Linked DNA regions of Homo sapiens: region 1 is linked to region 2. Evidence: fine-mapped expression QTL. A gene starts in region 2. The other region holds a variant in brackets. All regions are shown on one strand. Distances are between the middles of the regions.

Evidence for each region. PIP is the estimated chance that this variant, and not a neighbour inherited with it, causes the effect.
Region 1: its variant is fine-mapped to the expression of UBL3 in lung (TOPMed, PIP 0.95).

Annotation. Positions count from the first base shown.
Region 1 is chr13:29,928,938-29,931,848 of GRCh38, forward strand. No RefSeq gene overlaps it. Among named protein-coding and RNA genes, the nearest start is that of LINC00572, 3.7 kb to the left of the region's middle. The variant G/A (reference allele first, on the strand shown) is at 1,164.
Region 2 is chr13:29,849,268-29,852,178 of GRCh38, forward strand. UBL3 (ubiquitin like 3) reads right to left here and starts at 1,350. Exons shown (of 5, transcript NM_007106.4): 1 at 245-1,350. The coding sequence starts at 271. RefSeq lists enhancers at 456-525, 1,196-1,265 and silencers at 826-1,125, 1,396-1,505.

The DNA of each region.
Region 1 (2,911 bases), 80 kb after region 2:
AAAGAAAGAAAAGAAAAAGAAATGGCTATTTAAAAAATGTGAAAGTTGTTTTTGTTTTTGTTTTTTTGTTTGTTTTGTTTTGTTTTGTTTTCACTTGAGATAACCAGAAACCTTGTTAAACCTGAGAGGCTGATTTTGTCTGGGATACAAAGATTAGAAAGCATTAGACCAGGAAGGACTTCATTTGAACCTGCCTGAAGACCCATTTCAGTTCTGTTAACCAGAACTGTGCATTCTTCAACCAGAAGCACAATGGGAAATGGGGAGGAGGGAGGAAGGGAGCCTGGACGGAGGGAAGAGACCTACCTGCCTTAGCCTGACTTCCCTAGAAAGCAGAGCCTGAGGCAAAGTATGTGTGCTATTTCTAGATTGGGGAGTGCCTTCCTAAGGACAGAAGAGTGAGGGAAGAGGGGAGCAAGGCAGAAAAAGAGGGAGAGCCAATAATGGGTAACTGAGCTCGCTACTGCTGGATTTTCAGCTCAATCGATGATGCAATCTTGCAGGTCCATCTTCTGACAGGCCATGTGAATGGCTGCATCTCAGGACAGCCCTTCTGTGGGAAAAGAGGGATACAGTTTAGCCATTTGCTGCATTCGTCTATGGGTCAAAGGTTGGCACGGCAGATGGTGATGCCCCTTGCTTCTGGATGGACACAGGTAGACACTATGTGGTCCGTGGATGTCTCACGACAGAGCTCAACAGAAAAGCCCCAGGCTGGAGGCGAGGCACTAAGCAGTTGCTCATGCATGCCTAGGATGGGAGGCAGTTTCAAGCTCCTGAGAAGTTGGTCACAGCCCGTGCAGAGTTGCTCAGCACGCAGCAGCTGGAATAGAAAAAGGGGCCAAAGACCTTAGAGATGTGAAACCCAGAGAATCTGAGGCATGGTACAAACCCCTACCTAGATTTCTGTTGGAAACACAGCCTTTTCTGTCTTTGAGTATGCTCGATACTGGGGATTGGGCATCTGCTGATGTCCATACATGGTAGACTGCTTGCTGTTTCTCCAGTATTCTTTTTCCTCTTCTTAGTAATAGAGCCCCTAGGTTTTAACTGTGCACTTGACTTCACAGAATAAAGACTGACTATACATTTTCTAGCCTCCTTTGCCAATTGGTGTAACCATGTGACCTAGTTCTGACCAGCGAGATGCAAGTGGAACTGAT[G/A]TATGCAACTTCTGACATGTCCTTAAATGGAAGGGACATGCTCGTCTTTGTCCCCCTCTTCATTCAGGTAGCTGGAATTCAGATGTAATGGTTGGCACTCCAGTGGCAATTGTGGACCATGAGGTGACCTTGGGAATGGAAGCTGCATGTGGTAAGGCAAAAGTCACAAGGAGCCTGAGTCCCTGTCACTACAGAGTCACCAAACCAACCCTGAACTGCTTACTTCCAGACTTTTTACAGTGGAGAGACCTAAATTTTTGCTTTACTTAAGCGACTGCTATTTTGGGTTTCCTATTCCTTTGGCTGAACTTTTGTTGTTGTTGTTGTTGAGACAGAGCCTCTATCACCCAGGCTGGAGTGCAGCAAGTATAGTCACAACTCACTGCAGCGTTGACCTCCTGGGCTCAGGTGTTCTCCCACCTCAGCCTCCCAGGTAGCTGGGACCACAGGTGTGCACCACCACACCTGGCTAATTTTTTTGCATTTATTGTAGAGATGGGGTTTCACCATGCTGCCCAGGCTGGTCTCAAACTCCTGGGCTCAAGCAATCTGCTCACCTCAGCCTCCCAAAGTACTGGGATTACAGGCATGAGCCACCACACCCAGCCCCTTTGGCTGAACTTAATTCTAAATGATACAGCATTCAAAGCAGGGAGGATATAAAGGGAAGAGGGGCATAAGTATCCACTTTTAAGAATGACTCGGCTGGGCACGGCAGCTCACGCCTGTAATCCTAGCACTCTGGGAGGCCGAGGCAGGTGGATCATCAGGTCAGGAGGTCAAGACCATCCTGGCTAACACGGTGAAACCCCGTCTCTACTAAAAAATACGAAAAATTAGCCAGGCGTGGTGGCGGGCACCTGTAGTCCCAGCTACTCAGGAGGCTGAGGCAGGAGAATGGTGTGAACCTGGGAGGCGGAGCTTGTAGTGGGCCGAGATCGCGCCACTGCACACCAGCCTGGGCGATAAAGTGAGACTCCGTCTCAAAAAAAAAAAAAAAAAAGACTCTCCTTTGTCTGTGTCCCACTACCCCTACCTTCTCATAGCACCTTTGACTACCCTGATGATAGTTAACACGGGCATACCTCACACATATTGTGAGTCCTGTGCCAGACCACTGCAATAAAGCAAAATCACAATAAAGTGAGTTGCACATTGTTTTGGCTTCCCAGTGCATACAAAAGCTATGGTTAAAGTATACTCTAGTCTGTGCAATAGCATTATGTCTATGAAAACAATGTACATACCTTAATTAAAATACTTTGTTGCTAAAAAAAAATGCGAACAATCATCTGAACCTTCAGCAAGTAGTCATCTTTTTGCTGGTAGAGGATACTTCTCAATGTTATGGCTGCTGACTGATCCGGGTGATGGTGGCTGAAGGTTGGGGTGACTGTGGCAATTTCTTAAAATAAGAAAACAGTGAAGTTTGTGGCACCAGTTGACTCTTCCTTTCATGAAGATTTCTCTGTGGTATACAGTGCTGTTTGATAGCATTTTACCCACATTTTACCCTTTTGTCAACTAAGTTTTTGGAGTAAATACTTTGTTGTCGTTTCAACGATGTTCACAGCACCTTAAGAAACCACTGTCTTTGGTTGTGCATAAGAAGCAACTCCTCATCCCTTAAAGTTTGATCATGAGATTGCAGCAATCCAGTCTCACTTACAGGCTTCTCTTCTAATTCTAGTTCTCTTGCTATTTCCAGTGACTTCCTCAGCTGAAGTCTTGAACCCCTCAAAGTCATC
Region 2 (2,911 bases):
GATACATTTCCCTACTTCTCCACTATCTTCAATGCTTTAGAAAACACGACCAAATGAGAGAACCCATATTAAAAGCAGTACTTCCTAAAAGGGGGAAACCAGAAGCTCCAACTTCTCCAAATCGCTCAGCACAGTGGCTTTTCGACAGTCCCCAGCAAATCTTCGCCCCACGCCTGCCGTCTTTCCGATTAAATAAGATTGGAAACCACAATTAAATCAGTGTCATAACTTATCCGTCACTTACCATATCCGCCGGGACATTACTGGACATCTTGCCGTTTGATATACACCCAGATGTTTACGAAAAAAACAAACAAAGAAAAAAGAGCAGAAGTCTTCACGTTACAGAAATAAACCACGATTTTGACTGGTTCGTGATGTGCTTTCTCCCCCAAAAATAAAGTTATTTTGGAGCCAAAGTGCCGGTCAGGCCGAGGTTCTGGTTCGAAGAGGAACAATCCCCAGGAGCTGTGTGGCCGGAGCAGGAGGAAACTCCCGGGACAGCAGAGGCAGCCCCCGTCGTCGTCGTCGTCGTCAACAGCAGCAGCAGCCCCAGGACCGGCCGCGCCAGGTGGACCGAGCCGAGTGACACACGGACATGGAGAGGGGTGGGAGGGGGTTAAATGCGCCTTCCTCCTTTCCCAGCCCCGGCAATGATTCACACTTGCTCCCGAGTCAAGTCCTCATTAAGCAGGAGAAAAATGCCCCAGCGTGGATGTACACAGATAACTATGTAGCTACACATCGACGCGTGAGCCTTGAGTGGCGGCCGAGCGGTGGCCGGACGCTGGCCGCGGACCCTGCAGAGCCGCTGTCGGAGCGCCCGCGCGGACAGCGCGGGGAAACGGCTCAACTCGCGCCGCGGGGGCGAAGAGCCGGGCCGCGGAAACCCGCGCTCAAGGGCATTTAACTAGTTGGAAGCCAAAGCGAAAGACCGGAGCGGGGGACCGACAGCGCGGGGGTGCTCGGGGCCGGCCGGGACACTCCACAGCCCCTCTGGGCTCAGGCCGCGGGCGCCTCCGGACAGCAGCTGGGGTCGGGGCGCATCGTCTCCGGCTCCTCGCCACTCCTCTTCTGCCTCCGCCTTCCCCGCCGCCGCCTCCCCGGTCTCCGCCTTCCCTTCCCCTCCCCTCCCCGGCCTCGCGAGCTCCGGGCGACGCCGACTTCGGCTGGTCCCCGGAAGAGGCCGGGTCCTCCTTCTCCTCAGCCCGGGAATGGTTTCCTCTCAGAGCTTTGTTTCTCCTCCTCCTCCTTCACTTTTCAGTCCCACACGCCGCGGCCGCCTCCTGTCATCGCCTCTCAAACCAACATGGCGGCAGCGGCGGCGGCGGCGGCTGCCTGAGTGCGACTAAGGGAAACGGGGAGAGCACGGGCCCCCCCTCGCAGCAGCCGCCGCCCCCGTCCTCGTCCTCCCTCCGCGGACACCAAGTGCGTCACCACGGAGACCATTCCCTCGAGCATCACGGGAAGTGTAGTCTACGAGGGTGGGGGGGGGAGGGAGCCGCCGAACGCCTCCTCACCCAGCTCCGAAGCCACGCCCCCCATAGCAACAGTTGCGAGGAAAGGAAAGCTCCCTTTCCCTTGCTTTGGACAAGCTGCTGCCCAGGAGTTAAGTGATACCTGCTACCAGGAGTGCTGTGATCATGAGAATTGTTGGGAGAAAATAATTCTGCATAGAGAAATTCCCTTATGCACGATATGCACACAGAGCTAAAATATGCTGTACCTCCAAGCAGAATCATTCATTTTAATTACAGCACATTCTCCACATCCTGCAATCTCAATGCATTTTGTAGAGTGATTTCATCTAGGTCTCCTCAACATTACATTTTGAAGAACAAAAGCAATCATTGATTTCCAATAAGGTCACATAAGTTCAACAGGAACAAGGATCTCATTAAGCAGTGAGAATATTTGAACATGTGTTTCCTTGAAGACCCAGGGCAATAAAGCTACAATCTACTTAACTGAAATTACCAAAACTGTATTACATACAACAGTGTTATTATATCAAATCTGTATCAGGAAATAGCTACTACAAACTTCATGGGGATTCACCAGTTTACCCATCTGGACCCTAAATTCTATTCTATGTAACTCATAATGTAATTGAAAACCTATATGCCTTGCAGTGATTAGCAAATAGGAGAAAATAATGCCATTGTTGAGACACCATTCAGATGGACATTTGTGATTTCTGCATTTTGTTCCTAAATCTGAGGTCAACATCTGAATCCCTATTCATATCTCTTAGTCCTTTGACAGAGTACTTTAGAAAGGGCAGTCTCAATATGATGCCTATATATAAATGCCAATGAATTTAGAGTCTGAAAGCCACCTCTCCAACCTACAGCTGTGTGACCTCATCTGTAAAATGGTCTTGCCTACCTTCCGGGGTAAAGTAGGGGTAGTTATGAGGATGAGTTCATGCATGGGAAATAAATCACTTTGTAAATAATAATGCATCATTTGATATGAAATGTCACTACTCATTCTCTCATTCAGCAAACAAATGTGCCAGGCACTCTGCTAGGCACTAGGAGTTTAAAAATGAGTCACTGTAGCGAACAGCAGCATCATGTGGCAGAAATGCCAAGGTCTTGGGTTGGCAATGGGGGTTATTACATCCTTGTCTATAGGGCTGTTGAAAAGAGGCAGAATCCAGTCACTGTCCTCAGGGAGCTCATTGTCTAGAAGCCTACGTGATTCCCCACAGCAATCTCTCCAGTTGGGTTTCTCATCAGTTGGAAACCCACAGGACATTTAGAGTACCTGCCTCTTGAGTAGCCTGGGTGGAGAAATTCCAAACACTCCTAAGGGCCTATATCACCCTGAGGAAGATAGATCAAATTCTCCGAAAAACCAAAGGCCAGAAGAGAAGAGAGGCCCAAATCTCACTGTGATTAGGCTT